Regions from separate parts of the Homo sapiens genome. Here regions 2, 3 and 4 are each linked to region 1. Evidence: fine-mapped expression QTL. A gene starts in region 1. Each other region holds a variant in brackets. All regions are shown on one strand. Distances are between the middles of the regions. Region 1 holds the start of SEC14L5 (SEC14 like lipid binding 5). Region 2 holds the start of PPL (periplakin). Region 3 overlaps SEC14L5 (SEC14 like lipid binding 5). Region 4 overlaps SEC14L5 (SEC14 like lipid binding 5).

What was found. PIP is the estimated chance that this variant, and not a neighbour inherited with it, causes the effect.
Region 2: its variant is the best candidate, but not a certain one, in a credible set for the expression of SEC14L5 in sun-exposed skin (GTEx, PIP 0.86).
Region 3: its variant is the best candidate, but not a certain one, in a credible set for the expression of SEC14L5 in iPS cells (HipSci, PIP 0.90).
Region 4: its variant is the best candidate, but not a certain one, in a credible set for the expression of SEC14L5 in whole blood (INTERVAL, PIP 0.61).

The regions. Positions count from the first base shown.
Region 1 is chr16:4,953,578-4,961,678 of GRCh38, forward strand. It overlaps SEC14L5 (SEC14 like lipid binding 5), which reads left to right and starts at 4,753. Exons shown (of 16, transcript NM_014692.2): 1 at 4,753-4,868; 2 at 5,696-5,809. The coding sequence starts at 5,747. RefSeq lists silencers at 4,638-4,847, 4,646-4,941 and an enhancer at 4,745-5,280.
Region 2 is chr16:4,931,692-4,939,792 of GRCh38, forward strand. PPL (periplakin) reads right to left here and starts at 5,457. Exons shown (of 22, transcript NM_002705.5): 1 at 5,293-5,457. The coding sequence starts at 5,354. RefSeq lists a silencer at 5,400-5,799. The variant A/T (reference allele first, on the strand shown) is at 5,031.
Region 3 is chr16:4,986,592-4,994,692 of GRCh38, forward strand. SEC14L5 (SEC14 like lipid binding 5) reads left to right here. Exons shown (of 16, transcript NM_014692.2): 3 at 966-1,115; 4 at 1,558-1,689; 5 at 4,176-4,304; 6 at 5,247-5,439. Among named protein-coding and RNA genes, the nearest start is that of SEC14L5, 32 kb to the left of the region's middle. The variant CTT/C (reference allele first, on the strand shown) is at 4,571.
Region 4 is chr16:5,014,532-5,022,632 of GRCh38, forward strand. It overlaps SEC14L5 (SEC14 like lipid binding 5), which reads left to right. Exons shown (of 16, transcript NM_014692.2): 16 at 328-4,626. The coding sequence ends at 439. Among named protein-coding and RNA genes, the nearest start is that of NAGPA-AS1, 15 kb to the right of the region's middle. The variant A/G (reference allele first, on the strand shown) is at 4,218.

The DNA of each region.
Region 1 (8,101 bases):
ACGTAACAGCCCTGCCAACCATCATGATAGCCCTGGAGATTCCCAAATCCAGGAGGCCTCAGGGCTCTGCTTCGAGAAGGGGCAAGAAGCAACACAACGTAGAGGCCACCCGGGACGAATGAGATGTCCCCCAGGAAGCAGATAAACAGATGGATGGTTTCCAGGGGCTGCGGGAAGGGAGGAAGGAGGAGTGACAGCTTCATGGGTATGAGTTTCCTTTTGGGGTGATGAAAATGTTCCAAAACTAGAAAGTGGTGCTGGCTGTACGTGCATCTTGTGAATATACCAAAAGCCAGAGAATTGTACACTAAGAAATGGTTAAAATGGTAACTTTTGTGTTATGTGCATTTTTTTTTTTTGAGATAGAGTCTCGCTCTGTCACCCAGGCTGGAGTGCAATGACATGATCTTGGCTCACTGCAACCTCCACCTGCTGGGTTCAAGCAATTCTCCTGCCTCAGCCTCCTGAGTAGCTGGGATTACAGGCATGCAGCACACTAAGAAATGGTTAAAATGGTAACTTTTGTGTTATGTGCTTTTTTTTTTTTTGAGATGGAGTTTCTCTCTTGTTGCCCAGGCTGGAGTGCAATGGCATGATCTTGACTCACCGCAACCTCTGCCTCCCGGGTTCAAGCGATCCTCCTGCCTCAGCCTCCCCAGTAGCTGGGATTTCAGGCATGCATCACCACACCCAGCTAATTTTGTATTTTTAGTAGAGACGAGGTTTGTTCATGTTGATCAGGCTGGCCTCGAACTCCCAACCTCAGGTGATCTGCCCACCTCGGTCTCCCAAAGTGCTGGGATTACAGGCATGAGCCATCGTGCCCAGCTGATTTTTTTCTTTTTTTTTTTTTTTTTTGAGATGGAGTCTCACTCTGTTGCCCAGGCTGGAGTGCAGTTGTGTGATCTCAGCTCACTGCACCCTCCACCTCCCAGGTTCAAGTGATTCTCCTACCTCAGCCTCCTGAGTAGCTGGGATTACAGGCATGCGCTACCATGCCTGGCTAATTTTTTCATTTTTAGTAGAGACAGGTTTTTGCCATGTTGTCCAGGCTGGTCTCGAACTCCTGACCTCAGGTGATCCGCCCACCTCGGCCTCCCAAACTGTTGGGATTACCGGCATGAGCCACTGTGCTCGGACCATTTTGCCACAATAAAATTAAGCTGGGGACCGTACCCTGCTTACTGCATCTTCTTCAGCTTCAGAGCCATCCCAGGGCCCATTATGTATTCCAGGGTCTTAACCCCCATTCTCAATGTCACACTGAGCCATTCAACTCAGGACATTCCCAGCAGGATGCCTTCCAGGAACATCTGCCTTTGGATGGGGTCCAGAGTTTTACTCAAACAAATGCATCACTAATGGTTGAATCTTCTCTGGCAGTGGCCCATCTGCTGGGAAGACATTCAGAGACATGAGGTGGTTTCTGGGGTTCCCAAAACCCACCTCCACAAAAGGCAGCATTGGCTGGGTCATTCTTGCAGGGCAGGTGGGAAGCAGCAGATAGAGGCTAAAGATCCTGCCCTGGGACTGAGTTCATGCCCAGCACCCCTGGGGAATCAGCCTATCCTTGCAGCGCCTTCTTGTCCTGGAGCCAGGGTGCCTGGAGATCTTGCAGTTCAGGGCTTGGAAATCACATCTTCCCGGAGCATCAGCTGCAGCTCTAGGAGAAGAAGTCATTGGAGAACGAGAGTCCTGGGTATGAGTTCCTTACTAGCTGTGTGGCCTTGGGCAAGTTATTCAGTCTCTCTGTGCCTTGTGCCTTAGTTTCCCTACGTGTAAGATGAGGATTAAAATAGTTTTGACTGTATATGGGCTTTTAATTGAGATGAAAGCCACGTAACAGAAAATTAATCATTTTAATATTGTGGCCCCAATTCAGTGGCATGTGCATTTGCAACGTTGTGCAACCACCACCTCTATCACATTCCAAGACATTTTCATTGCTCTGGGGTTGCTTTGAGGATTAAATGCATTCGTGTTTGTAAAGCTTTAGAATGGTGCTAGGTATAGTAAGCGCCAATGGAGTGTCAACAAGTGGTAGGAATAATTAGTAGAACAGTAATAATAGGCAACTGGGCCAGGTGTGGTGGCTCATGTCTGTAATCCCAGCACTTTGGGTGGCTGAGGCGGGTGGATCACCTGAGGTCAGGAGTTTGAGGCCAGCCTGGCCAACATGATGAAACCTGTCTCTACTGAAAATACAAAAATTAGCCAGGTGTGGTGGCAAGCGCCTGTAATCCCAGCTACTCGGGAGGCTGAGGCAGGAGAATTGCTTGAACCTGGGAGGCGGAGGTTGTAGTGAGCCGAGACTGCGCCACTGCACTCCAGCCTGGGCAACAGAGCAAGACTCCACGTAAAAAAAAAACCCCAAAACCCAAAAAAAGCTGGAGTGAGTGTTGGTGGCGTTATTAATTCCCTTCCCTGGGGCTGGAGGAGGAGGGAGTGGGGTTCTCACTCCCCTCCAGGCCCCAGTTTCCACTTTGAGCTCTCTGTACCCGCAGGGCTGTCACACCTCTGTCTCCCACGCAGTCATTGTCCTCCCTCAATGTTGGGCAGCAGGAGAGGCGGACTTAACGCCTTTCGTGGTGGTAACAGCAGCTAACGGTGTTAACGTTCACTTTGCTCTGTGGCGATGCCTGGGCAGAGCTGGGCATTTCCTGGATGAGCCCGGGTTAGGACAGTCATCCCTGGATCCCATGTCCCCCACCTACTCACCCTTGTGTTACTCCAGGAGCCATGGGCTATCATTTGCTGCCACCTTGCGACAGGGATGGGAACTTTGTGTCCCATTTCCGCCCTTGATTACCTAAGCCAAGAGTCTGCTGGGCACCTGCTGCCTGCCTGCCAGGTCCCCAGTAAGATCCTTCCCAACATGCGGGCAGCTGAATAAGGCAGCCACTGCCCCTGCCCTCAGGGAGCTCACAGTCTCCTGAGAGAGACCTCCAGGAACCCACAGATATATAAAACGAATAAATGCAATATTAGAATGTGATGCAGGCTAGGAAGGGAAGAGAGGTGATTTTCACAGGGTGCAGTGACATACTTGAAATATATCAGGGGTTGTCCATCTCCCTGGCCACCTCTGACTTCCCCTGCTTGAAGGGGTGAATTCACCCCACGGTGGCACGTAGTAGGTGCTCAGTAAATGTTGAATGAGTGAATACATGGATGACAGCACTGTCCAGAGCCAATTTCTTGGGTCTTGTAGGCTAAACAGATGAGGAGTGGCAAGGCAGGACTTCTGGGAGCAAGGTTGGTCCCCTGGGAGTCCTGGGAGGGCTGAAAGGGGTTAAGTGTGAGTTAAAATGAGAGTGATGGACAAATGTCACTCTCCCAAGGGAGGCCCCCTTACTCCCTGTTTTATTTATTTATTTACTTATTTATTTTGAGACCGAGTCTTGCTTTGTTGCCCAGGCTGGAGTGCAGTGGCCAGGTAACAGCTCACTGCAGCTTTGAACTTCTGGGCTCAAGGGATCCTCCTGCCTCAGCCTCTTGAGTAGCTGGGACCACAGGCACGTGCCAACACGCCTGGCTAATTTTTTTTTTTTTTTTTTGCGACGGAGCTTTGTTCTTCTTGCCCAGGCTGGAGTGCAGTGGCGCAGTCTCGGCTCACTGCAACCTCCGCCTCCTTGATTCAAGCGATTCTCCTGCCTCAGCCTCCCGAGTAGCTGAGATTACAGGTATACGCCACCATGCCCGGCTAATTTTGTATTTTAGTAGAGACGGGGTTTCCTCATATTGGCCATGCTGTTCTCGAACTCCTGACCTCAGCTGATCTGCCTGCCTTGGCCTCTCAGTGTGCTGGGATTACAGGCGTGAGCCACCGCGCCCTGCCTAAACTAAAAAAAAATTTTTTTGTAGAGATAGGTTCTTGCTATGTTACCCAGGGTGGTCTCCAACTCCTGGGTTCAAGCGGTCCTCCCGCTTCCGCCTCCTAAAGTGTTTGGATTACAGGCGTGAGACATGGCGCCCGGCCTCTTACCTGTTTTAAATTGTCCTTTCTCTCCGCTGGCTCCTTGAGCCCCTTTCCTGCTTATTTTTCTCTCGTTAGAGTTTTTCACTACCTCACACATCATATATTTGCCTTATTTATTGAGTGTCTGTCTCCCCACCGTAGTATAAACTCCACGAGGGCAGGGATTCGTGCGTGTGGCTCACCGGCGGCTCTCCAGCGCCTGGACAGGGCTGACCCCCAGCAGGCGCTCTGTGAAGGTGTGCAGAGTGGGCGAAGGTGCATGCGCGGGCCGTGGGGCGGGGACAGGTGGAGGAGCCAGTCAGACCCAAGTGCAGCGGGACGAGGGCGAGGTTAATCTGAGCAAGAAAAGCGTAAATTCTGCTTATCTACAAATGTAAACAGTACTGTCGGCCAGACGCAGGGTCCGGGGCGGGTCGGCCCGGACTCAGGGTCTGCTTGGAGGCAGAGCTAGATTAGGGCGGGGTCGTCCTGTGGCCTACCATTCCCCGAGGCTGAGGGCCTTGGAGGGCGGGGCCAGTGAAGGGGGAGGGGACTTCCTGAGGTGTGACCAATCTAGAGAAAGGACTGGGCTGAGGGCGTGGTCAAACAAGCGACATCTAAAAATAAGGGGCGGGGCTAGAACCAGGGGGAGTTCGCCTGGGGCGGGGCCAGAGTGGGGCGGGACCAGTTAGGGGGCAGGGCCAACCTGGGCGGGGCCATGGCCGGGGACGTGGGCGGGACCAGGTCAGGGGCGGGGCCAGGCCAGGATCTCCGCTGTCCCGGGTCCTGGAGCTCTCTCGGCCCGGCAGGTTTCGCTCCCGCCCCTCCGGCCTTCCACAGCTGTCCTGGCCGCAGGGTGTTCAAGGCGGGACACACCAGGCTAGAGATCCGCGATCGGGCCCCGCCTCAGGTACTGCGCTCCAGGCCAGGCGGGCGCGGGTAAGCGCTCAGCTCCCGAGCCAGGCGGGCTTCCAGGGCACTTCCCCTAGGCTGCATTCCCAAAGGCTCCCGAGGGCGAGGGTGAGCAAAGCTGCGGGGACCTGTGTGTGCATGCGTGTGCGATTGCCTCTACGTGTGTGTACGTGTGTGTGCATGTGCGCACGGGTGTGTGTGCGTGTGTGCACGTCTGTGCACACCAGGGGAATTGCGTGCGTGGAGCTGGGCAGGTGCGTGTTTCAGGGTGTGTGTGCAAAGTTGGAGGCGTGTGCAAAAGCAGTCCCGTGTGGGAGGGAAACCTGCGTGTGTACATGTGTGTGATAGAGACAGTGCCTGTGAAATGTGGTGAAGGCTGTGTGTGTATGTCAGGGTGTCTGGGAGGAAAATGGGAGGGCAGGTGCAAGGAGACTCGGGGGTGGGCTGTAGGCCAGCAAGTCTGTGGCAAGCTGCGGGGTGCATGCGTGAATAGAACCGTGGGAGTGTAAGAATTGCAAATGTGTGTGTGTCTGTGTGGGTGGCCGTAAGGCTTCTGGGGGCCCTCAGTGTGAAGGGGTGGGGGTAGAGGAAAGTTTGGGGGTGCTGACTGCTCTTGGAAGGCTGAGCGTGGTCTGGGGCCATGGCTAATGACAGGGAAGCTGTTGGGGCTTGGCCTGGAGTAATTTGGGGGGAATATCAGCCTTCTCAATTTGAAGGCTGGGGAGCTGTGTGGGTGGGGCCAGGGGCTGCCCCTTACACTTGGTGGGTGGTGTCCCTGCTTCCCGAGGTGGGAGCTGCAACCTCACCAGTCACTCCTCGCCCCAGGCTCTGTGCACACCCCTGCCTGGTGACCTCCATTGGTGCTCCAGCGTGAACATGGTGCAAAGATACCAGTCTCCTGTCCGAGTCTACAAGTACCCGTTTGAGCTGGTCATGGCGGTGAGTGACTCCTGATTCTTGGGCCCCCATGTGACAGTTGGAGGGGCTTGAGATCAGCTATGGCGGTAGGAAGACGGAGCTCCTTAGACTCCCAGATCAGAAGGAATTAGTGAGTTACTCAGCTGACCTGGTGGGTTTAACTTCTATCCAGTGACCTCTCTGTCCAACCATCCTATCCTCGGCCCAGTGACCAAAACACAAAGTCTTTCTTCCTTCTCCTTGTTGAAGCTGACCTGCTCCCTTACTTTAGACTCTCCTGATAGAAAACAAAGGTATCAGGGGCCAAGCCACTGCTGTCATTTCATATAATGGCATATCACAGTGATAAATGGAATGGTGGTGATAATGACAACAGCTGTTTATTGAATGTTTACAGCACTGTCTTAACAGATGATGTTTCTTCCAATTCCCGATAGCTGTTATTTTCCCATGTAACCTCCATGAAACTGAGGCTTTGACAGGTGAAGGGATGACACTAAGTTCTGTATCTACGCAGAGGTGGAGTCGGGGCTGAGATCCCCACAAAGGAGACTCTAGAACCTCACATTTGACCACAGAGCCCTCCTTCTGCTCACAGACCCCCTTCCCTCCCCTTTAAGGAAGCTGACACTGGGACGAGAGAGAGAATGAGTGGGTAGGTTTGCTTTGTGATGTACTCTGTGTTGTGCAGCAAGTCAGTTGGAGGCCTAGAATTGGCTGCCAGATCCTTGGCCCCCAGGATCACTGGTCTTTTCACCCTGGGGGCAGAAGCTGGACATAGGTGGATGTGGAATTCCTTCTTGGCTGCATCCCTCTGCCTCTGAGCACTTCACTTCCCTGCTCAGTAACATGGGGACAATGCTACAAGGTTGCGGGGAGGAGTAAATGAGATAGTTCTTGGTGCTCCTTGCTGTGTGCCGGGCACACAGTAGGAGCTCACAAAATATGCTGTCGCTGTTATTACACCGAAGTCTTGTAAATTAATGTATTGAAAGTGTAAGAAACATTAGCATCCACCCCCATCTGTCCCACCCCAGCACTGACTGCTTAACCCCAGCCTTCTATCCAGGGACTTTCATATCTCTTGGTGGCTGTGTGTGCCTGTGTGTCCAGTCCTGTCTTATTCTATGAATCTACATGCGTATATGTTTATTGTCACACAGAGGATTTAAAAGCATCACCAAAATCATCCACATACCTTGTGCTGTTACAGGCAGATGGTTCTAGGACAGCAAAGAGGCAGGAACTGGCTTAGGGTCATATTCTAGCTCCCCAATTGACGAGCTGAGTGACTGTGGGGCAAGTCACTTCACCTCCATGAGCCTCCACTCCCCATCACCAATGGGAATCTCCTGGCTTCCAAATCCTGGTGTCATGCTGTGGATTAAATGAGTCAATGTGTATAAAGCTCCTGGTACGGGGCTGACGCAGATCAAATGCTCACTGAGATCCAGCTATGATCGTTACTGTTTTTGCAAGTGCCTGAGTGACTTTGCTTCTGCGTAATGGGAGTGGAACACCAGGGGATGGTGAAGAGATCCAGGGACGTGAATTCAGATGCTTTAGGGTTCTGCTGTGCTCTGCCATGCTCTGGTTGTATGTTTTTAGAAAGTTGCTGAACTTAAGCCGGGTGCAGTGGCTCACACCTGTAATCCCAGCGCTTTGGGAGGCCGAGGTGGGTGGATCACAAGGTCAGGAGATCAAGACAATCCCGTGTAACACGGTGAAACCCCAACTCAACTAAAAATACAAGAAAAATTAGCCGGGCGTGGTGGCGCGCACCTGTAGTCCCATCTACTCGGGAGGCTGAAGCAGGAGAATCTCTTGAACCCAGGAGGCAGACGTTGCAGAGAGCCGAGATTGCGCCGCAACACTCCAGCATGGGTGACAGAGCGAGACTCCGTCTCAACAACAACAACAGCAACAACAACAACAACAAAGTTGCTGAACTTTTCTGAGCCCCATTTTCTTTTACTTTTTCCAGACTGAGTCTCACTCTGTTGCCCAGACTGGAGTGCAGTGGTGCCATCTTGGCTCACTGCAACCTCTGCCTCCCAGGTTCAAGCCATTCTCGTGCCTCAGCCCCCTGAGTAGCTGAGATTACAGATGCACACCACCATGCCCAGGTAATTTTTGTATTTTCAGTATAGACGGGGTTTCATCACGTTGGCCACGCTGGTCTCGAACTGCTGACCTCAAGTGATCCACTAGCCTCGGCCTCCCAAAGTGCTGGGATTACAGGGGTGACTCACTGCATCCGGCCCCTATTCATATAGCCTTAAGTGCTATATTCATGGGCATGGCTTATTTTCA
Region 2 (8,101 bases), 22 kb before region 1:
AGCTCTCTAAAGCAGCTTCTCCCCCAGGTCCCCTACTTCCAGGGCCTCCCCCAACCACACCCTTAGGGTATTGCTTAAAGGGTGTGGACGGAGCTGAGTCTCTCCCCCAAAATACCCTTTCCCAACATGATCCGCCCGACAGTGCCTGAAATGCTACCATTAGCAGCTGTTCCTCCAGGTAAGCTCAGCTCTGTCCTGAATCGAATTTATCCAGTCTCATTCCTTCTTCCAAGAGAACTGGGCAAGGGATGGAGGGGCAAAGCTAGAGAGAAGAGAGGTAGAGGGGGTTGCTGGGGGTAGAGGCAGTGAGCACAAACACCAATGACTCTACCATTTGGCCTGGAGCAGTCCCCAGGCACAGTTGCTGCCAGATCCAGGTACGAGTGGGGAGGCCTCATTTGCTTCCCCAGGCCCCCCTGGACTTCCAGCATCAGCCATTTGTGAGCTGTGAGCTCAAGGTGAATGTGAGCCCTCTGTGAAACAGGACACTTCCACCTGCATGGCAGGCCCGCTGTCAGAATGAGATGTAACATCCATGGCCTTGCTGGGCTCACAGTATGTGCCTGAGAAATGGCGGGGCGGCTCTCTCTAAGCTGTTACCCACATGGGTCCCCTCCCATATCGATCAGGCGTTCCTACCAACACTGATCGATGGGTGCATGTGCGTGTCTGCTTGAGTCAGCTCCCTGGTCAGCTCTGGGCTTGGCTCAGTCATGAATCTTTTTTTTTTTTTTTTGAGACGGAGTCTCGCTCTGTCTCCCAGGCTGGAGTGCAGTGGTGTGATCTCGGCTCACTGCAATCTCTGCCTCCCAGGTTCAAGTGATTCTCCTGCCTCAGCCTCCCCAGTATCTGGCTGGGATTACAGGTTTCCGCCACCACACCCAGCTAATTTTTAATATTTATTTTTGTAGAGATGGGATTTCACCATGTTGGCCAGGCTGGTCTTGAACTCCTGACCTCAAGTGATCCGTCCGCCTTACCCTCTCAGAGTGCTGGGATTACAGGCGTGAGCTACCGCGCCCAGCCCGTCATGACTCTTAATAGCAGTGTGTGCTTCCTAGTATTGGCTGCTATGATTTGCCGGGCACTCGCTCTGAACCAGGTCATGGGCTGGACCCATCATGTGCATCCCCTCATTTGATCTACCCAGCAGCCTCACCAACTGGGGGTTGCTGTTGTCACCCCACCTCATAGATGAAGAAACTGAGGCTCGGAGACATTAAGTGACTTGCCCAAGATCAAACAGCTTAAGAGACCCAGAGCTGCGGCCTGAACTCATGCCCAGCTAGCATCAAACACTGTGTTCTTGCTTTTTTTTTTTTCTTTTTGAGACAGAGTCTCACTCTTTTACCCAGGCTGGAGTGCAGTAGCACAATCTCAGCTCACTGCAACCTCTGCCTCCCAGGTTCAAGGGATTCTCCTGCTTCAGCCTCCTGAGTAGCTGGGACTACAGGCACCCACCCCCATGCCCAGCTAATAAAACACTGTGTTCTTAACCACTAAGAGGCTCAGGGTACCCCAGGTGCCTCCCAGTAGAGCATGCTTCCCTTTTGCCAGCTCTCCCCTCAAAGCCTGGGGTCCTGCCTCCCATGCAGGAGCGCTCCATCAGGGCGGCCCCAGTGTTGCAAGACCCGTCTAGGCAAGGCCAGGCTGCTGGGTGTTTACTGGGACCCAGGTCTGGGTGGAGGGGCAAGATTAATCCCATTCAACAAATTCAGAAGCGCTGGGGCTCAGGGATGCTATGTTTCTTTTCAAGCAGAGGCAGAATTGAGCCTGACTGCAGAGCTGGGTCTTGGCCACTCCATCCCACCCCGTGACAGGTCAGATGCCTCCTCTGTGAAGTCCTCCCTCACCTCCCAGCATCTGTGCTCTGACTGTGACAACTCTCACTTGAGGCCTGTCACAAAGTATGTGAGTGGCCAGGGTGGAGACCTCATCTGTCCGGCTCTATGCTCCATTGCTCCTGCCTGGCCCCATCAGTCCGACGCTCATGTAACCATACATGTACTGAAGCTTAACTCCATCTTATCTCTGTGATGTGACTGCCAGCGACTCAAGTGCAGGGAGGTTGTCCACGTCTCCTCCACGACCACGTGCTAAAACCCAGCAACAGTGCCTATGGAATTGTGCAGTGCACAGCCTGTCCACCATGATATCAAGTTTAACCCTGGGTACACCACAGCTAGCTTGCCCGCATTTGCTTAATAACTGTAATCGTCACAGATGCTATTACCTGCGGCCGCTTATCATTCACAACCTTTCCCCTGCATTATTTCATTTAATCCTGAGCCAACATCGCCAGGCAGGCACCGTGCTTATTCCCATCCCACAGGTGAGAAAACAGGCTCAGAGAAGCCAAGCAGCTCCTCTGAGGTCGCACAGCCAGGAGGGTGGCAGCGGGTCTCCTCCAGGGCCTCTCTACTAGGCTGGAGGCTGTCCTCGGTCACCTGCACCATCTGGCCTGACTCTGTCATTAGCTCAGGTGTGAACATCAACTCCCACACCTGTCATTAGGAACCCGGGCAACGGGAGCAACGGGGTTCACACCCTGTCCCGGCCCTCCCCAGCTTCAGCTGCTAAAAGGCAGACAAACTGGAAGGGGTGGCTTTCTCGGTGGGGTGTTCCGTTCACTAATCCACACTTTGTAGTCCAAAGGCCTGACTACCTTGGGTATGAAAGTCACCACTTGGGGCTCCTGGGTCCCCTGGGCTCGGAAAGGGCTGCTACCCTCATCCGGGCACCTCCTGTGTGCTACAGCACTGCTCCTCCCAGCAGCCCTATGCATGAGACACTCAGTATTACCACCCGTGCTGTGCAGAAAGGGAAAACAAGGCTTCGAGAGGCTCCAGGGTGGAGATGCCAGGATCAACAGTGAGGCATTCTGCTCTCAGTGCTGGAGCTCCTACTGCCCCCCATGCTGAATCTCACCAGCAATTTTGTCCTCCCCCAGACAATGGAGCGGGCCCCTGGAAAACTCAGAGTGAAGGAATAACTTGGGGATCCACTCCCTGTGACCAGCGACCACAGCCTAGAGCCGCAAGTCTGTCCCCTCCACCCCCCCACCAAGACACTTGCTATGGGGCTGGCTGGGCATCAGGCAATGTTCAAGAGATGCGTTTGAGAGGATGGGGTACAGGGCTACCCCCACCCCACAATCCAGTCTGCGAACTAGTCCCCACTAAGGGGAGGGGGCAGAGGGATGCACTGGGCTTGGAGACCACCCGGGGAGGCATCTGACATCTGCTCAGGGCTGTGGCTGTGCTCATTCTGTGCTGGGGTGGCAAGGCTCAAAGGAATGGTCTTGCACCCCAGGCTGGGGAGAGAATCAGGAGGGCTTCCTGGAGAAAGAGACGTCTAAATGGAGATCTGGGACCAATGGCTATCAGCCTAGGACAGACCGTGGCTGCCTTGGGCCAGATATACAGAGAGTGGCAGGACCCCAAATCTTTGCCACCCCAGACCCTCCCAGTCCCTGCAGCTATAAAGGATGGGATGCCTTTCATCCTCATGCTTCTGGGAAAGCCCGCACCCCTCCCAGCTTGTCTGGGTTCATTAGAACCTTTTGTTAGGTCCAAGCTGGGGCCTTCAGGATGGAGAGCTGCACGAAGGAGGGAGGCTGGGAGGAGGCAGAGGGCGGGGCGAGGCCTGGCCCCACCACTGGTATGTGGGTGTCTGCATGTGTGAAGGACTGGATGGGTCTAGTCTCTGGGGTGGAGAGGACAGAACGGTTCTCCACGGCTGGCACGGAGCATCCAATTGTGCAATGCCCCAGGGAACAGTGCAGGGACTGGACGGGCCTCTGGTTGGGTCTGAGTGCCAGCTGGACGCAGCCATGGAGGAGGGGTGTGCAGGCCCTGCCCAGTCTCTGGGGTTGTGAAAGATAGGGGAGGGGTGGGGAAATCTCTAAAGGCGGGTAATGCCTCTGAGCTTGAAAGAGCCCAAACGGAGATACGGGTGGGTGGGATCACAGGGCAGGGGGGTTTCTGAAAGGGCTGGAAGGCCCCGGAATGGAGTGTCGCACTCCAGCGTGCTAGGGCCCCGCCGCCTGCACCTGTCCGACTGGTCGGCCTAGGCCGGACTGCAGGGGTTGAGTGGGAGCCCTGGGCCCAGAGGCCTCTCCTTGCCTAGGGAAGAAGTGAGGAGCTGCTTGAGGGCACAGTGGGGGCTCCCAGTGAGAGCAGCTTGGGGGCAGAACTCCCAGACAGGAGAGCCATGTAATGTGCGGGCCCCTCACCTGCCTGAAGCCTCTTGTCCGAGAAGCTGGCAAAATGGTCCTTGCTAGCCCAGAGCCCCCACTCTATTTTCCGAAGTGGGGATATAAGGCAGGGGCTGGATTCCCACCCCCTCCGTCAATCTCAGCATCTCCACCAGGCTCCCCTAAACCGGTTATTAAGTGAACACATTAGGCTTATCAAAAGGGACGTGGGCTGCTTCTCCCTGCAAACACATCAAGACATGCCATTCCCCTCCCAGGCCGCCCTGGGAACCCGCGGCTCAGAGACGCCGCCAGTTTCGGGGCTGGGGTGGGGGCAGGGAGCCACACCCCTGCGAAACCGAGCTTCGAAGAGGAGGCCCCGAAGCCGCCCAACCTCCGCTCAGAACCCAGAGGGTGGGGAGGTAAGGGGGTGCCTCCCCCTGTGCCCCTCGACCCGACCCCACACCCCCCAGGGCCTCCGGGCGCGGCTCTGGCGCGCAGGGTGGCAGGTGCCGGGAAGTGCAGCGGCGGGTGGCCCGCCCCCTCCGGACACCCATCCCTCGCCTCCCCGACGCCAGGAACACTTGCGCGGTCTCAGAGGCGCTGGAGAGCGCCCCCCGACGCCAGCTCAGTTTCCCTGCCTCAGGGCGCCCCCTGGACGGAGCTTCCTGGGTCGCCCGCAGCGACCCCGCCTTGAGTGCCCGGTCCTCCAAAAACTCCGCCCCCTCATCCAGGTGACTATTCCCGGTCCTGTGCGACCCTCTGCGCAAGAGCGACCCTGGGACACGGGGGTGCCCTGTACCCCCAGCTCAGCTGCCCGTGCCCTAGGCCCTCA[A/T]GGCAATGCTCCCTGGGCTCCCGGAGTCCCCTGTGTTATGCTCCCCCTCGGGGACCCCAGCCAGTCCCTTCCCACCTGGCGGCGCTTCCCAGCTTCAGGGTGGCCTCGGTCCCGCGTTCCCGAGAGTCCCGCACTCCGGGTTCAGTTCCCGGTTCCTGGACCCCCGTACCCCCCATTCCTACACTGCCCGGGAGGTCTTCCAGGTCCTGTGCGCCCACAGGGGCAAGAGCGTCCCGGAGCGGAGCTGTGGGCGCCTCCTCACCTCCGGGTCTGCACAGTGGGGCTGTATTTGCCTTTGTTTCTCTTCCTGAAGAGCGAGTTCATGGTGGCGCTCGGGGTGCGGGCGGCGGCGGCTGGCGGGCCGGGCGCGCACCGAGGGGCGGGCGGGAGCGCAGGTGAGCGAGCGGCGGCGCGGGGAGCCCGGACTGCGGCGCGGCAGTGGCTCCGGGTCCCTACTCGCTGGGGGCGGGGCGCCCGCCGGCCACTGGCTCTGCGGGCCGCTCCCCGAGAAGGTGGTGCTTACCTTCCCGAGGAGGGGCCACCGCGCGGGCGGGGCTTGGACGCGGGGGTGGGGACACTGGGTCTTGGCCGGACGCCGCCCACCCCCAGCCGGGGGACTCCGGAGGCCGGGCAGGCACTGGGGCGCAAAGGCCGCCGGGGCGAGCGCTCGCAGCCCCACCCTCCTCGGGCCCGGCGCGCCTCTGGCCGAGGCCTTCACCTGGTTCTGCGCTACCGCGGAACTCGGCGCTCCTGGTGCTTTGGCGGACACCCAGCTGGGCCCCGCAAGACAGGTGCGGCAGAGACCCGCACGGATTCATGTGCCCTAGTAGCTAGCGAATTGCACTCAGATGGTGGCAATTGAGGGAAGGGGGCTGAACTGCCGAGGGCGCCGGCCTGAGTTCAAGCCCTGCCACCCCCAGGTTGGCTGACACTCCTGGGCAAGGTGTTTTACTGCTCCCAGCCACAGTTTACTTCTTTGTCAAACGGTGATAACCACCACCCCATCCGAAAGGCCTGTGGGGATGTCCCTGCAGGTAATGCACGCAAAGCGCTGAGCGCAGTGCCCTGGCCTGAATCTGCTCTCCGCTTGCCATCTCGGGTGGACAAAAACTCCTTTGAAACTTCAATAACTCCAGGCCCTGGCACTAGAAGAGCGCTTCATAGCTGGTCATAAAAGCTGCTCGATTGCGGCTCAGAACAACGACGTTGCACAATTCTGCCAGCATGTCCTGGCCCAGACTGTGTGCCAGTGGAGGAGGCTGCCCTTAGACAGAAACCTAATCTGACCTGAAGCCCGGATGGCACACACCACCACACCTGGCTAATTTTTAAAAATTTTTGTAGAGGCAGAGTTTCACCATGTTGCCCAGGCTGGTCTTGAACTCCTGTGCTCAAGTGATCTGCCGGCCTACAGCCTCCCAAAGTGCTGGGATTACAGATATTAGCCACCGTGCCCAGCCAACCTTATTCTTAATGGGGCTTCTATGGGTGGGCTTAACCCATTTATGCCTGAGGTTGCAATTTTTTGAATTGATAAATCATACCTTGGCAGTGACCTTGAGCAGTAGGAGATAACTCCCACAGGCGTCACGTTCCAATAATGGACCACTAGGCGTAAATAGAGGTGTGATTCCTCCTAAAGTTGTGCCTGCCTGCCTGCCTTCCTTCTTTCCTTCCTCTCTCTTTCCTTTCTTGCTTTCTTGCTTTCTTTCTTCTTTCTTCTTTGAGACTCAGTTGCCCAGGCTGGAGTGCATTGGCACAATCATAGCTCACTGCAGCCTTGACTTTTGGGGCTCAAGCAATCCTCCCACCTCAGCTTCCCGAGTAGCTGGATCCACAGGTGTCCACCACCACGCCTGGCTAATTTTTAAAACCTTTATATTTATATATGTTTTTTGTAGAGATGGGGTCTCGCTGTGTTGCCCAAGCTGGTCTTGAATTCCTGGGCTCAAGCAGTCCTCCCACCTTGGCCTCCCAAAGTGCTGGGATTTCAGGTGTGAGCCACTGCACCCAGCCCTAAAGTTGCTTTCAAAATGTGTGTGTCCAAATGTGCATTTTTCTGGGGGAGGATGTATTGCTCAGTGGAGTCATTTACTCATTCAACACATGTTTCCCATCACTCTCACAGCCTCAGTGTGCCTGGCTCTGCTTGTTGTACACGGATGAGAAAAGGGAAAAGAACAACACAAAAGGGGCTTTCTCTTTGGGAGCTTTCAGGTCCCGGGGCAGGGGACACATATTAAAAATGTTAACTTGGATGGGCGCGGTGGCTCACTCCTGTAATCCCAGTACTTTGAGAGGTCGAGGCAGGGGGATCACCTGAGGTCAGGAGTTCAAGACCAGCCTGACCAACATGGTGAAACCCCGTCTCTCCTAAAAATAAAAAATTAGCTGGGCGTGGTGGCGCCTGCCTGTAGTCCCAGCTACTTGGGAAGCTGAGGCAGGAGAATCTCTTGAAACTGGGAAGGGGAGGTTGCAGTGAGCTCATATCACGCCACTGCACTCCAGCCTGGGAGGTCACAGTGAGCTGAGATCGTGCCACTGCACTCCAGCCTGGGCGACAGAGTGAGACTTCGTCAAAAAACAAAAACAAAAACAAAAACACGTTAACTTTTCTTTTTCTTTCTTTTTTTTTGGAGATAGGGTCTTGCTGTGTTGCTCCGGCTGGAGTGCAGTGGCGTGATCATGGCTCACTGCAGCCTTCCTTGACCTCCCAGACGGAAGCCGTTGTCTCTTCTCAGCCTCCCTCTCAAGTAGCTGGGACCACAGGTGTGCACCACCATGCCTGGCTAATTTTTTTTAAATTAATTAATTATTATTTTTTTTTTGACAGTCTGGCTCTTGTCGCCCAGGCTGGAGTGCAATGACACACTCTCGGCTCACTGCAACCTCTGCCTCCTGGATTCAAGCAACTCTCCTGCTGCCACCACGCCCTGCTAATTTTTGTATTTTTAGTAGAGACAGAGTTTTGCCATGTTGGCCAAGCTGGTCTTGAACTCCTGACCTTGTGATCTGCCTGCCTCAGCCTCCCAAAGTGCTGGGATTACAGCTGTGAGCCACTGTGCCTGGCC
Region 3 (8,101 bases), 33 kb after region 1:
ATATTGTGTTGAATCTGTAGACTAGTTGGGGAATATTGCCATCTTAACAATGTTAAGTCTTCTGTTCCATGAATATGGGATGCCTTTCCATTTATTTAGGGCTTTAATTTTTTTCAGCAAATGTTTTGTAGTGTTCAGAGTATACATTTTACACTTCTTTTTGTTGAATATATTCCTAAGTATTTTATTCTTTTTGATGTTGTAAATAGAATTTTTTCATTTTATTTTCAGTTTGCTCATTGTTAGTACATAGAAATACAACTGATTTTTCTATATTGGTTTTATATCCTGCAACCTTGCTGAACTCATTGATTAGTTCTAATCTTTTTGTGTGTACGTGTGTGGATGCTTTAGGATTTTCTATATAAATGTTCATGTCATCTGCAAATACAGATAGTTTTACTTCTTCCTTTCCAACTGGATGGCTTTTATTTCTTTTACTTATCTAGAACCTCTAGCACAAGCTCGAATAGACACGAAGAATGCACATTGCTACCTTGTTCCTGATTTTAGGGGAAAGCACTCATTCACCAGGGATGTTAACTGTGGCTTTTAGCAGATGGCTTTACCAGGCGGAGGAAGTGCCCTTCTATTCCTAGTTTATTGAATCTTTTTTTTTTTTTTTATCATGAAGGGGTGTTGGATTTTTCTCAAATGCTTTTCCTGAGAAATACCTTATTTTAAAATGTCCCCAGAGTCCCTGTGCTTCCTTCTGAGGGCAAAAACTCAAATGCAGAGGCAAAACTTATGTGCCAAATCATTGTCCAGGCTCTGCTGTGTTGGGCTCTAACAGGTGCTAGCTGGTGGAACGATTGTTGGTAATGACGGCAAAATCCCTGCCCCTTCCAGTGGCCAGGGCTGCCTTTCCCGTCTGATAAGTGACACAGCAGATAAGGAGGTCGCGCTGGGGGGGGGGGTCCCTCTGCCCCCCCCACCACGGCCGCTCACTGCCGCTCTGCCCCCAGGCCTACGAGAAGCGTTTCCCCACGTGCCCACAGATCCCAGTCTTCCTGGGCAGCGAGGTCTTGCGCGAGTCCCGCAGCCCGGACGGGGCTGTGCACGTGGTGGAGCGGAGCTGCCGGCTGCGCGTGGACGCCCCGCGGCTGCTGCGGAAGGTGGGCGGCCCTGGGGCTGGGGGGCGGAGGAGGGGACCTGTTGCGGAGGTGCGGGAGGGCTGGGCGCGGGAGCTGGGGACCAGGGCGGCGGGGTCCAGGAGGTGGAGCAGGGGCGTGTGAGTTGATATTTGGATGGAGGTTCCAGGATGAGGGTGGCGGGACCAGGGCCCAGGAGGGGCGAGGGCTGGAAGGCTGGGCTGGGGAGTAGCGGGAACTGGGCGGGGTTCGCGGGGCCAGGGCCGGAGCTGGGTGGTGAAGATGGGTTGGCGGCAGGGCGGAAGTCGGGGGTTGGTGTCCTGGGTCCGGGCTGGGTGGGCGGTGGCGCAAGGGACCTGGGACTCAGGGCAGGGGGTGACTGGGGCAGGCCCGCCGGACTCGCTCTCCATTCCTGTGTGCTCCACGCCGCCCACCCACCTCCGCCTCCCCGCCCCTTCCCTTGCAGATCGCAGGTGTTGAGCACGTGGTCTTCGTGCAGACAAACATCTTGAACTGGAAGGAGAGGACGCTCCTCATCGAAGCGCACAATGAGACCTTCGCCAACCGCGTGGTGGTGAACGAGCACTGCAGCTACACGGTGAGCCCAGGCCACCCTCAGCGCCCACGCCCGGCACCCACCTGCGCCCGGCACCCACCTGTGCCCAGAGCTGTGTCCCCACATTCCTTGAGCCTCTGCCAAGCCCTCCCTCCTGGGGCATTGTCAAGAAAGATGCAGGATGCTTGGTTGCCTTTGCATTCCGATGAACAACCCATAATTTTTTTAGTATGTCTCAAATATTGCTTGGGATATACTTATACTCAAATGTTATTTGTTGTTTATTTGAAATTCAAACGTGACTGGACATCCTGTGTTTTATCTGTTAAATCTGACAACCCTATCCTCTCCCTCCTCTTTCCCCTCCCTCCTTTCCTTCCTTCTTTCATTAAATTATGCCTCAGTTTCCTCACGTGTGAAATGGGCTTAATAATCATGCCTACTACACAGGTAGTATGTGGCGCCTTTAGACCAGTGCCTGGCACATATTAAGTTCTACGTAAATGTTACCTTTGACTATAATTAATAATAATCATAATTATTCTCTAGTATATACTGATTGAGCACCTACTATGTGCCAGGCACCCTGCCAAGTGATGAGCACCCAGCAGTGGACCAGGCTGCCTGACCACTGCCCTCACGGAGGGTCCATTCCAGTGGAACAAAACGGAATCAGTGTGTGTGCATTTGTCACAGCTAAGGCTGGATCCAGCAGGGAGATGTGTGGGAGTCAGAGAAGGTGGTAGGGGCACTGAAGCTGAGTGCTGAAGGATGAGAGGAGCTGCTCATGGAGGACTGGGAACAGCATTTTGGGGGTGGGAACAGCATGAGTGAGGTCTGCCAAGGTGAGGCCATGGGGCCTAGATCTTGATGACTTTAGAGGCTGGAATGAGGCACCTGCAGGCATTCACTGATGGGACCCAGCTCTGCCACTTTCTTGCTGAGTGACGTTGGGCCACACTGTCTGTATCTGTAAAATCGGGACATTGGCAGATCCTGCCTTGCTGGATCGTTTTCACGATGATAACTCCAGGATAGCAATGGTAGACCATTGTACGTGTTTTTTTTTTTGTTTGTTTGTTTGTTTTGTTTTTTTTTTTGTTTGTTTTTTTGAGAGACAGTCTCGCTCTGTGGCCCAGGCTGGAGTGCACTGGCATAATCTTGGCTCACTGCAACCTCCGCCTCCTTGTTAAAAGGATTCTCTTGCCTCAGATTCTCACGCCTCAGATTCCCGTGTAGGTGGGATTACAGGCATGTGCCACCACATCCGGCTGATTTTTGTATTTTTAGTAGAGATAGGGTTTCTCCATGTTGGCCAGGCTATTCTCAAACTCCTGGCTTCAAGTGATCCACCCACCTTGGCCTTCCAAAGTGCTGGGATTACAGACATGAGCCACCGTACCCGGCTCCATTGCCTTTTCTTTCTACGCCTCCAACTCCTCTTGGGTCCTCCAGGAGCTTGGGCTCAGGGTGTTCAGATCTTCTGGGGAGGGGCAAGCAACAGTTGTTGAAACCCCTCTTAGTGTGTGTGGTGTTTCTCAGAATGAGTTCTATCAATAGCTGAGTCAGCAGCACCTGGGGCTGCTTGCGAAATGCAGATTCCTGGGCCCCAACCTGGAAGTGTCTAGGGGCAGGCCCAGGAATCTGCATATTTTAACAGACTCCTTGGTAATGTTTCTGCCCACAGACGTTTGAGGAGGACTAGGTCTGGATCCATAAAGGAGCTCTGCCAATGAAGTTTTCTTTTTGCAAACATACAGATCTATAAATGTTTATTGATATATAAGGATATGTAATATATCTTTATATAGATAACATATAATATACAACTATTTAAAAAATCTATATCTAAATTTTATGTGTAATATTGATATATAATTTATTTATAGATTATATAAATGATACACTGAACAATTGTATTTATTTTATTATTTTTTTTTTGGAGATGGAGTCTTGCTCTATTACCCAGGCTGGAGTGCAGTGGCATGATCTTGGCTCACTGCAACCTCCGCCTCCCAGGTTCAAGCGATTCTCCTGCCTCAGCCTCCCGAGTAGCTGGGATTACAGGCACCCACCACCATCTCTGGCTAATTTTTGGATTTTTAGTAGAGATGGAGTTTCACCATGTTGGCCAGGCTCGTCTCCAAGTCCTGACCTCAAATGATTCGCCCACCTTGGGCTCCCAAAGTGCTCGGATTACAGGCGTGAGCCGCCATGCCCGACCTAAACATAAGTATTTCTAACTAATTTTCTATGTATGTGTATAATATTGAAAGGGCAGGGCTGCAGATTTGAGACCCACATTCTCCCGGCTTCTCATGAGAAGGCTTTTTGTTCCCTGACAGTTTGAACTTTGCATCGTTCTCTGGGTGGGGGCCCCTTGGTCCTGCTACCCCATCCAGGGTTGCCAGGCTTGATCTGCTTTCCACTGCAGGCTCTGCCTGGGCCCAGGTCAGTGGGAGAGCCCTAGGGGAGGGCAGGGTGCCCCCGACATTGAGTCCCTGGCATGACCCCTGCCTGGCTTTCAGGTCCACCCTGAGAATGAAGACTGGACTTGCTTCGAGCAGTCTGCCTCACTGGACATTCGGTCTTTCTTTGGCTTTGAAAATGCCTTGGAGAAGATCGCCATGAAGCAGTACACCGCCAACGTCAAGAGGGTAAGCGGTGGGTTGCGTTAGTTACTGGAGGAAGGTGCACACACCTGCTCTGCCATCAACAGCTGCATGACCCCTGGCAAGACCCTTACCCTTCCTGGGCTCAGTGTTATCTGTTAAATGGGTACTCTAGTAATGACCAAATCACCACGAGATAATGGATGGAAAGTAACTGGTCTGTAACAGGGGCACCCTAATCCTCGCTCTGGCACCATGAGATGTCCAGGCTTATGTGGTGAATTATCTGGACAACAGATAATTCTGTGGTG[CTT/C]TTTTTTTTTTTTTTTTTTTTTTTAGATAAAATGATCATTGCTTGCTCTAAAGACCTCAGATCCATCCCTGAGTAAAAACCCGTTCTTGTGATGAAACAGATGAAATTAACTTTAATAACAAATTTTTAAACAATGTGTTATCAATATAAAACTTAATTCTCCGAGGTTGGAGGCCCAGTTGAGCCCAGGAATTTCAGAGCAGTCTAGGCAACATAGTGGACTCCATCTCTAAAAAAATAAAATAAAATAAAATTAGGTGGGTGTGGTGGTGTGTGCCTATAGTCCCAGCTGCTCAGGAGGCTGAGGCAGGAGGATCTCTTGATCCTGGGAGGTTGGGGCTGCAGTGCGCTGAGATGACACTACTGCACTCCAGCCTGGGCAACACAGCAAGACACTGTCTCAAAAAAAATAAACAAAAACAAAAACAACCCCCAACCCAAAAAACTGATTACTGAGCTATTTTGCATTCTTTGTTTCGTACCAAGCCTTGGAAATTAGGTGGGTGTTGGACACTCGCAGCTTCTCTCCATCCCGACCAGACACATCCAGCCACTCAATAGCCACGTGTCGGGGCTGGGACCTGAGCCGGCTGGGGGTGACTCCCTGTGGTGATCCTGTGACCCCCCTCCATCCTGCCCCGTGCTCATGTGTCTTGGGTCTCTCTGGCTTCCAGGGGAAGGAGGTGATTGAGCATTACCTGAATGAGCTCATCTCCCAGGGTACCTCGCACATTCCGCGCTGGACGCCTGCCCCAGTCCGTGAGGAGGATGCCCGCAACCAGGCTGGACCGAGGGACCCCAGCTCCCTGGAGGCCCACGGGCCCCGTAGCACCCTGGGGCCCGCTCTGGAGGCGGTCAGTATGGACGGTAGGTGGTACAGCCCAGGCCAGTCAGCCCTAGGAGGCTGCTGCAGGTCCTCTTGCTCCATGGGGGGCCCTGGGGCATGTTGGGGAGAATTGCCTGCCGTCCCCCCTGGGAATGGGTCTGGGTCTTGGAACGACACCGCCTCCTGCCTCCACTGAGTGCTTTTCTCTCTCTCCATCCTGGTCCAAGAGCAGAACTCATTTGTTTCTTTTCTTTTCTCTTTTCTTTTCTTTTCTTTTTTGAGACGGAGTCCCCCTATGTCTCCCAGGCTGGAGCGCAGTAGCACGATCTCGGCTCCCTGCAACCTCCGCCCCCCGGGTTCAAGTGATTCTTCTGCCTCAGCCTCCCAAGTAGCTGGGATTACAGGCATCTGCCACCACACCCGGCCAATTTTTTCTATTTTTAGCAGAGATGGGGTTTCACCATGTTGGTCAGGCTGGTCTCAAACTCCTGAGCTCAAGTGATCTGCTTGCCTTGGCCTCCCAAAGTGCTGGGATTACAGGCGTAAGCCGTTGCACCCGGCAAAAACTCATTTATTTCTAGATCAGGAATTAACCTCTGGTGCCTTGACATTGCCTCTTTCTCTGGTTTTACTATTTACTAACTTAGCAATTATTATGAATTTACTAATTATTACGATTGCTATTGCTATTTTAAATTATACGAGTAATGCATGATCATGGTAGAAAAAAATTCAAACTGTAAGGAAGATGTAAGAAGTACGATTCTTTTCCTCTCCCTAAAGGCTAACAATAGTTTTGTGTTTCTATGTCCTGAAGCTGTTTAGGTGCATATATGCACATAAAATGTATATATACCCACACACATATGTGTGTACATGCATACATACATGTGTGTCTTATGTTGAATACGTGAGAACATATACATTCCATTTGATATTTTGCTTTTTTTTCACTTACTAATGTTGCCTGAAAAACTTTCTGTATCAGTGCCTATGTCTTCTTTTCATACTTCATAGTATGGTGTGGTTGCACCATAACTAATTTATTAATAAATATTAATTATTTATTTAGAGACAGGGTCTTGCTCTGTTGCCCAGCTTGGTATGCAGTGGTGCAATCGTGTCTCTCTGTAACCTTGAAATCCTGGGCTCAAACGATCCTCCTGCCCCAGCTTCCTGAGTAGCTGGGACTATATAGGCACAGGCCACCATGTCTAGATAATTTATTTTTACTTTTATTTTATTTTTAATTAATTAATTAATTATTTTTGAAGTGGAGTCTCACTGTGTCACCCAGGCTGGAGTGCAATGGCACGATCTCAGCTCAATGCAACCTCTGCCTCCCGGCTTCAAGCAATTCTCCTGCCTCAGCCTCCTGAGTAGCTGGGATTACAGGCATGTGCCACCACACCTGACTAATTTTTAAATCTTTAGTGGAGACAGGGTTTCACCATGTTGACCAGGCTGGTCTTGAACTCCTGACCTCAGGTGATCCACCTGCCTTGGCTTCCCACAGTGCTGGAATTACATGTGAGCCACTGCCCATGGCCTTGATTATTTTGAATTAGTCTATTTAGCTAGTTCCCTATTGAAGGAAACAACCCTATTTAGGTCGTTTCAGTTTTTAAAAATACAAACAACATGGTACATGTGAGTACTTAATAATTTTTTTAAAATGTCTGTAAGTATATACAAAGCATAACATTTTAAAAGTGGAATTGCTGGTTCAAAGTTTACATGCAAGTAAAATTTTGGTAGATTTAACCATTAGGCTTCCAATGAGGTTGTACCAATCATTGTTCCCACTGAATGTGTAATTGCATCTATTCCTGACTTCACTCCAGCTCCCCACAAAAGTCTTAGTAAACATCTCAAACTTCTGAAAGGGAATAAAAGTAGTCACTTGTTGATTAGTGACAAGTTTTTTCATTATGAGCAAGATCAGGCATGATTTTTCATGTTTAGTGACTGTTTTCCTTTTTTTTTTTTTTTTTAATAATACATACTTGTTCTTGTCCTTTGTCCATTTTCTTATTTGCCCATTGCTTTCTTATTGGTTTGTAAGAGCTCTTTGTATATGAAGGCAACTAGCCTTTTGTCACAGTTCAAGCTTTTATGGACATGGAAAATGTTTACAATATAATGTTAAAAGGAAAAATCCTAGGATACAAATTGTATGTACACCACAAATCCAGTTCTAGCCATGTGTAAGATGTGTACTCAGGTTGATAATGTTTTTCCTTTAGGGCCACTGCCGTGCAGGGACTTCCCTAACTCTGACACACTTGGGTGGCAGTGCCATGGAACTAATAATACATCTGGGGCTCTGTTTAGGGAGAATGAAATTCATTCATACAACATGTATTATTCTTTTTCTTTTTTTTTTATCTGTCACCCAGGCTGGAGTGCAGTGGTGTGATCTCAGCTCACTGCAACCTCCGCCTCCTGGGTTCAAACGATTCTCCTGCCTCAGCCTCCCAAGGAGCTGGGACTACAGGCGTGCACCATCATTCCCGGCTAATTTTTGTATTTTTAGTAGAGACAGGGTTTCACCATGTTGGCCATGCTGGTCTCGAACTCCTGACCTCAAGTTATCCTCCTGCCTTGGTCTCCCAAAGTGCTGAAATTACATGCAACAAGTATTTATTCTGCACCGACTGTGTGTGCTGGTTGGCTGTTGTTGTATGTGCACATTTTTTTTTT
Region 4 (8,101 bases), 61 kb after region 1:
AATTTGAGTGCAAAGAGTAAGGAGGGAGTGAGACTGGAGACAGGGCCGGGGACTCCCTGGGCTGTGGCGGCCTTAGGGCCATGCAAGGGCCTCAGGCCAGGGGAGCCCCTGATGGGTCTGTGGCAGGCTGGGCTCCATCTGGGGAGATGGGAGTGTGGGGAATTCGGTAGTGCTTTTCTCTTCATGGCGTCACTTGCTTTTCCCTTTGCATCGGCCTGGGGCCCTGGGGCCTGATTTGCAGCATCAACAGCTTTTCCACTGCTGTGTGTCAGCCCAAGGGCCTTGTCACTGTGAGAGGGTAACGTGTGCCACGCCCTTCCTCCCCAGGGGCTCCATGTCCAGCCTGGAATCCTGCACCAGCGGCTTCTCCCAGCTCAGCGCCGCCACCTCGTCCTCCTCCTCCGGCCAGTCTCATAGCAGCTCCCTGGTCTCCAGATAGCCGGGCCCAGTGTTTCAGGGCCGCCCGCTCGCCTCCAGTGTCCAGAAATGTCCAGAATGAGAAGCCAGCTAACTGCAGGGCCTGGGACCATGTGGGCTGGAGCCCCAGGCCTAGATGCTGCCCAAGTTGGGGTGTCTGGAGCGGATGGCAAGGATCCAGAACTGGCCTGTGGGTGGTGTCAGGGCTCTTGAAATTGCAAGGACAGAACCATCTCCTTCCGGCTTCGTGTAAGGAAGACCAAGCCAAGGCCAAGGTGTCTACCATACCACACCTTTGGGACATCCGGGCTTAGCGACGTCAGCCAGGCCCATCTCCTCTCTGTCCACCTCTTGCTCTGCTTTCGCCATGCAGGGGACCATCACTATCAGGTGCCCTTCTCCTCCCTGCAGCTTGCCTGCATAAGAGAGCCTCTTCCTCCCAAAGGCTCCAGCCCACTTCCCAGAGCTGAGTCTTAGCCTGGAAGGGGGAGCGATTGCCAGGTCAATTCCTGAACCAATCACAGTTGCCAGGCACACTGGAGAATGCTGATTGGCCAGCAGGGTCATGCCCAATCTGGACCAATCACCGTGATCCAGGGTTGCAGTGAGGTGCAGTGATTGGCCAGCCTGGATCACATGCACATCTCTGGAACCAACCACCTGCTCTCAAAAGCACTAGTGGGTGCCTCGAGGAGTACTGGGGTCCCCCCTAAGAAGAAGGAGGAAGGATGCTGGGGAGGCAGAAATGAAGGGTGTTTACCTTGGCATCTGATTGCATAACGTTCTGTTATGCAGTATCAAGATGTGCTTGGTGAGCAGTTAAGTGAGTTACAGGCGCTGCTCTTTGTGGGGAACAGCACATCCTGAAGTGAAAATCCATGTTCCCTGCACTTGGCCAGCATGGCCTAAGCCTGACCATCCCTGATTGGAGAGGGTGGGAGAGCCCTGGGTTTCTGCTAAGTTCCAGGCAGTGATGGGGTGACTGAGGCTGTCTGTATACCCCACTGGAGATGCCTTTCTCTCCTAGGGAACTGTTTAATTATGACTGTTTTTGGTTGTAAGCCACAGAGACCCATGCCCAGGTGCTTCAACACAAAAGCATGATCATTCATGGGTGCATAGAACTGGCCAGTCCAGGAGGGCTTGCTTCAGGTAAGGCTAGATCCAGGGTCTCAACATGGAGTCTCGATTCCCCCCGCGAGTGGAGGCTGCTGTGTTTGCCCTGGGGCAGATATGACTCTGGAACTAGGTTCAATATTGACATGAGTTCCCCTAGTTACTACACAGGAGCGTCTTGGGTCTCCTTGGGGCCTGAGGACATTTCTCCTTTCCTTTCCTGGACTCCCCAAAAGGCAGCCAGTCAGGGGTCACCAACTTGAAGCCTGATCTGGCCTGCTTTTAGTGTTGCTTTTTTGCCTTTAGAATGGTTTAAAAATTGAGGCATTTCGCATCGAAATCAGGATTTCTGGCTTCCCTTAGGCATTTGGGAGCACCAGCAGAATGGGGTCACTATTGTTGCATGAAGACAACACCTCTGCACCCCTGGATGTGGCCACGCCAGTCCCTACCCCATTGACTTGCGCCCAGCCCACATTACACATCCTCATGACCTGCGTGGCAGGAGTCTCACTGACATGGCTCTGTCAGCAGTGGCTGGTACCCTTGTCTCCTGGCCTTGCTTAGAGTTGGGGCTCATCTCTGCTGCAGTAACTGAGCCAAGGGGTGGTTTTGTGGCCACAAGAATCATCTTTATGCAGGCTCAGCAATGCAGGGCCAGGAAACTTATATCTACGCCAGCCTCAACCCCAAACCCAAGGAAGAGAGAAAGTGTCATCTTTTCAGATACATCCTTCTTCCTGCTGGGAGAGAGCCTTGCCCACCTTCCTGTTGGCTCTCTGTCCGCTTCTCAGGTATCTGAACAAAATAGATTGCTTTGCACTCTGCGTCAAGGTGTGTGTGCACATGTGTGCATAAGAGACCGACTGATTGGAAGGAGACGTTCTCAAAACTAATTGCTCCCATATCACCAGGCATTTATTGCTGAGAGCAACTTGCAATATTTTCAACTATCTTTAAGTGAATTTCTAGCTTTTCTCTTAAAAACTAGGTGTTATCCTACAAGTATGCTGGGATAAGCTGCCCTGGCAGTCTTTATACATTTATTGTCTAGCCCCAGAGAAGGACACAGAAGCCTTTTACGGAAGGAAGCTGGAACTGCCTGTTCCAGAGGCGGGTGGGGGGAGGGGAGTCTGCTATCAGCTGTCCACCCTTAACAGTGGGGGTGAGGAACCTCAGGCCCTTTCAGTTCTGCTCTTGAGAGTGCTCTCTCCCTAGGGAAAACCAGCCCAAACTGGCTTAAGCAACAAAGCAAATTCCCTGGGTCCTGTACTAGGGATGGCTGAAGGTGGGTGCTGCTTCAGATATGGCTGGATCCAGGAGCTTAATGTCCTCAGGCCTCTCAACTGCACCCAGGCCTCTTGACTCTGCATCTCTTTGCATGCTGACCTCATTCTTTCTTCCACCTGGCGGGAAAGATGGCTGCCAGCAGCCCCAAGCCTATAATTTCAGGATTCACACTCTAAGAGATGCTTTTCCATCTCAAATCTCATGGAAGGCTCTGATTGGCCCAGCTCGAGTCACATGCTTATTCCTGTGGGCCACACTGGCAAGGAACTAGGGTCCCGTGATTGACATTCCCTGCAGAAGCCGCAGCAGGATTGGGGAGGGCCATTCCCCCAATGGACAAGAGAAGCTGGACCACAGAACCAGCAGGTATCCATGGTGGCATCTGCTACGGCCGGCTCTCCTCCCATGTGGAGGTCTCGGGGACCCACGTGGAAGCATTATCAAGGTCATTCTTCTTGCCTTCGGGAGGACTGGAATTAAAAATAATCCAAGGAAGGGATTGCCAAGCTTTTGGCTTTTGAATTTCCCCTGAGCCACAAAGGCTGGAAGTGCCTTGGCTTGGGCTTCTTGCATCATTAGTTCATTAATCCATTGTGACCAGGACAGAAGCAACCCACAAGCAGCATTACTGTTGGTGTTTGGGCACCTGGGCCTTGAATTTAGGCCAGGACTCAAACCCCAGCCTTCCTTTCACTAGCTGTGTAACCTTGACCAGGTGACTTAACCTCTCTGTGCCTCAGTTTCCTCATCTGTAAAGTGAGGATAGCAGTGCCTACCTCAATAGGTTGTAGTGGGACGAAATGAGGGAGTAGCTGTAAAGCTTTCAGCACAGCTCCCAGAACACAGAAAGCGCTCCATTAATGTCAGTGGTCATTCTGATTACTTAATGCTTCGCATCCAAAGACTCGTTTTCTTCCTGAGGTCGCCTATCCCTGTTTTTCGTTATTGCACCCAGAGAAAAGTAGGTGTCAAGAATTATTGCCCTCTGAGTTGGGTGTGCAGTCTTTCTCTTTTAGAAACTGCTTGTGTGGGCGGGGCGTGGTGGCTCATGCCTATAATCCCAACACTTTGGGAGGCTGAGGCCGGCTGATCGCTTGAGTGCAGGAGTTCAAGACCAGCCTGGGCAACATAGTGAGACCCTGTCTCTACAAAAAATTAAAAAATGAGCCAGGCGTGGTGGTGCGTGCCTATAGTCTCAGCTGCTCGGGAGGCTGAGGCAGAAGGATTGCTTGGAGGTCAAGGCTGGAGTGAGCCATGATCTCACCCCTGTACTTCATCCTGGGTGACAAAGCAAGACCCTGTCTCAAAAAAAGAAGAAAGAAGCTGCTTGTGTTTTCTGGGTAAGTCCACCCATCTGAGGGAGTGTATTCTGAGTGGTATTTCCCTTGGCAGTT[A/G]GAAAATGTTTTTTCCCAGAGGTTGAAGTATGGAGAGTTTGAGACTCTTTTTTTCTACCCTGCACTCTCTGGAATTCCCCCTCCCTGCTGTAAAATTTATTGTCCAATGAGAATAGTATAATTGTTTTCAACAAAGTCTCTTTGAGCCAGTGAAACACGATGGGTTTTTTTGTTTGCCTGATCACTTGCTCCAACCAGCAGCATTAAATGTTTTCCATTTGGATAAACTTGCATCGTCAGCTTCCTAAAACCCTGGAGGTTTCCCGTGGGCTCGTTCAAGAACTTTCCAGCTGTTGTTTAAAAGACTTTAGAGCTAGCTTGTTCAGCCTGTGGCCTGCAGGCTGCACGCGGCCCCGGACTGCTTTGAATGTGCTCCAACACGAGTTCGTAAACTTTCTTAAAATACTGAGGTTTTTTGTGTGTGTGTTTTCTTTGTTTTTTCAGCTCATCAGCTATCATTAGTGTATTTTATGTGTGGCCCAAGACAATTCTTCTTGTTCCAATGTGGTCCAGGGAAGCCAAAAGATTGGACACCCTTGCTTTAGAGCATTTGCAACCGGAGTGATATCACCCCCAAGGGGCTGCATATCTGTTTAATGCAGGTATAATTGTGTATCATATATATTGTATACATATGTAATGGATTGGATAGCATGTCCCCAAATTCATGTCCACCTAGAACCTTAGAATGTGACCTCATTTGGAAATAAGGTTTTTGCAGGTGTAATTAGTTAAGGTTCTCAAGATTGGTTATTGGGCCGTGTGAGGGAGGATCACAATTTTTATATATAAAGCAGAAATAGGCCAGGCGCAGTGGCTCACGCCTGTAATCCCAGCACTTTGGGAGGCCGAGGCGGGTGGATCACAAGGTCAGGAGATTGAGACCATCTGGCTAACATGGTGAAACCCCGTCTCTACTAAAAAATACAAAAAATTAGCCGGGCATGGTGGCGGGCGCCTGTAGTCCTAGCTACTCGGGAGGCTGAGGCAGGAGAATGCCGTGAACCCGGGAGGCGGAGCTTGCAGTGAGCCAAGATTATGTCACTGCACTCCAGCCTGGGTGACAGAGTGAGACTCCGTCTCAAAACAACAACAACAGCAACAACAACAACAGGAATGTTCTGGAGGCTGGAAGTCCGGAATCACCATGGAGGTAGGGCCCTGCTCCTTCTGAAGGCTGTAGGGGAGGACCCTTCCTTGCCTCTTCCAGTGTCTAGTGGCACCTCGTGGCTTGTGGTTGCATCACTCCAGTCTCTGCCTCCATCATCATATGGCCTTCCTCTCTCTCTGTGTCTCCTCTTCTTGTAGGGATGCCAGTCATTGGATTTAGGACCCATCCTAAGTCCAGTATAACGTCTTGAGATCCTTAACTAATTCCACCTGCAAAGATCTTACTTCCAAGCGAGGTCACATTTTAAGGTTCCGGATGGACATGAATTTTGGGGCATGCTACTCAACTTATTATGTATGCATACAATAGCTAACCAGATACACAGTTATATCTGCATTAAACAGATATGAAAATCCCTGGTGCCCATCTCTCCTGGGCTGCCCTGCCCTCCCCCTGGGGTTTTACCAAAGTGCCAGACCTGGTGTCCTGGAGAGCTGCATCCCAAAACAGCCACAGTCCTGACGTCAGAAGGTTGTGATGAACCCTGTCCAGGGTGCCACCTGTCCTTCCCGTGAGCTCTCTTGGGGCACGGAGAGTGGAGCTGGCTGCCACACAGATCCTGGGACTCTGAAAAGCCTTCGTCGTTTTGGAGCTGGTGGCTGGGGTTGTCATTTGTGAGAGCAGAGCAGGTGTGGTGTTTTGTGTGATGGCACGAGGGCCATCTGTCCACCCAGCTTCTGCTCCCCAGCCCTGCCCAGCACAGCTCGTCAGGGGAGAGGAGGCGGCTTGCACTTGCGTGTGTTCATGGGCGGTGACTCTTCCGTGGATTTCTCTGGAACTGTGGGTGGCGGGTTTCAAAGGAACAGCCAGCTGACTCGTGGGTGCGGCGGGTATCGAGAAAGAACAGCCCTGTGGGGGAAGATGGAGCTCCGGAGGGTGGGCGGGAGCTGGGATCAGGCCTGAGCTGTGGGGCCCTGCTGATGCCTGTCTCAGCCACAGCGCTTTCCTTGGAGGCCTCCTGGGGCCTGGACCCAGAGCGAGCAAAACATGCCCAGGGCTCCCTGTGGCCCAGAGGCTGCCTCTGGGATCAGTTCTTGGGGCACAGACCCCTGGGACCTCTGCGGAGCCAGGTTGGACGCAAGCAGCTGCAGTGGGAGCTGGGGTAGGGCCTGGGAGGAAGGGAGCCCAGGGCCTCCAGGGATGTCAGAGGCTGTGGCTACCAACTTCTCCCTCTCACTTCCCTGCCTCCCTTAGTGCCCAGCCCCCAACAAGGCATTTTGGAGGAATGCGGATCCCCAAAAGTCACATTTTTTTTTGAGACAGGGTCTCACTCTGTCACCCAGGCTGGAGTGCGGTGGCATGATCATGGTTCACTGTAGCCTCAACCTGCCGGGCTCAAGCGACCCTCCCACCTCAGCCCCAAGTAGCTGGAACCACAGGTGTGCGCCACCATGCCTAATTCTTGTATTTTTTTGTAGCGGCGGGGCCATGTTGCCCAAGCTGGCAAAAAGCACAATTTGAAACCTCTAAGCCAGGATTTTTTTTTTTTTCCGGACACAGACTGCTTGGAGAATCCCATGAGAACTCAGGACACACACACGAATTTCATTTGTTTTGGGGCCCCAAAGAGTCCTTGAAAGCCCACCCATTGACGCCAGGATGGGAACCTTTCTGGGGTCTTTCCGAATACTAAAGTTCTGTGCAGAGCACCCCAGAAGCTGAGACGTGTCACCATGGCGATGGCCCAGCATGTGGAACTCTCAGGGTTCCCAGTTGAGCTGCAGAGACTTCAGTGTGCAGTCCAAGACCACCGTGCCTGTGCCTGGGGGTCTTGAGTCACTACTGTGGGTGGGGGAGGGGACCCTTATGCTGCTGGGATCGGAGCACATGAATCCCCAGCCGGCTTGCCTGCAGTTTGATGACTTTAGCTCTTGTATATTTGTGTCCCCACCAGCACCATAGGTTGGTACTGGAATCTCAGACACTTCTGCCTCCTGCTCCATGTCCTATCTAAGGTCTGCCGTCCAAAATCTAAATGCCTGAGTCCCAAAATGTGCCTCTCCTGTAACAATACAAGTGTCACACGTTTGGGTTGCCGGAGACCCCAAAACCCAATACAAATTGCCTCAAGCAAAAAATGGGAATTTATGGGTTCATGTAATTCGGAAGTCCAAGAATGATCTGGCTGGCTTCAGGTATAGCTGGATCCAGGCATTCAAATCATGTCCCCCCACCCCCACCCCAACACCCTCAGTCTAGTCGTTTTCCACACTGGCTCACCCGCTCCATCTCTTGGTTCTGATCAGGTCTTCTCCACACTGGAGAAGAGTTGGTTTCCGTTCCTCCTCCTTGTGGCCCACCTTGGCCCACCTTGTGGCCCTCCTTGTGTCTAACCTTGGAAGTTAGACAGTCCCAGCAGAGAGAGTTTCTTCTTCCAGCTGCAGCAGAAGTTCCACGATGGGCTCTGACGGGCTGACCCGGGGCAGGTGCCTAACTCTGGACCAATCTCTCAGGCCCACCTGCAACTTGGGGTGAGAAGACAGTGCCACCCAAACCACCTGGATGGAGAATGGGGGAGAGGTACTACCCTGATAGCAACACGCTAGAGGCTCACAGCCAGGGCTCCTGGGTTTTGGGGTCTCCGGCAACCCAAAACGTGTGACACTTGTACTGTTACAGGAGAGGCACATTTTGGGGCTCAGGCATTTAGATTTTGGACGGCAGACCTTAGATAGGACGTGGAGCAGGAGGCAGAAGTGGCCACCTCCCCGGG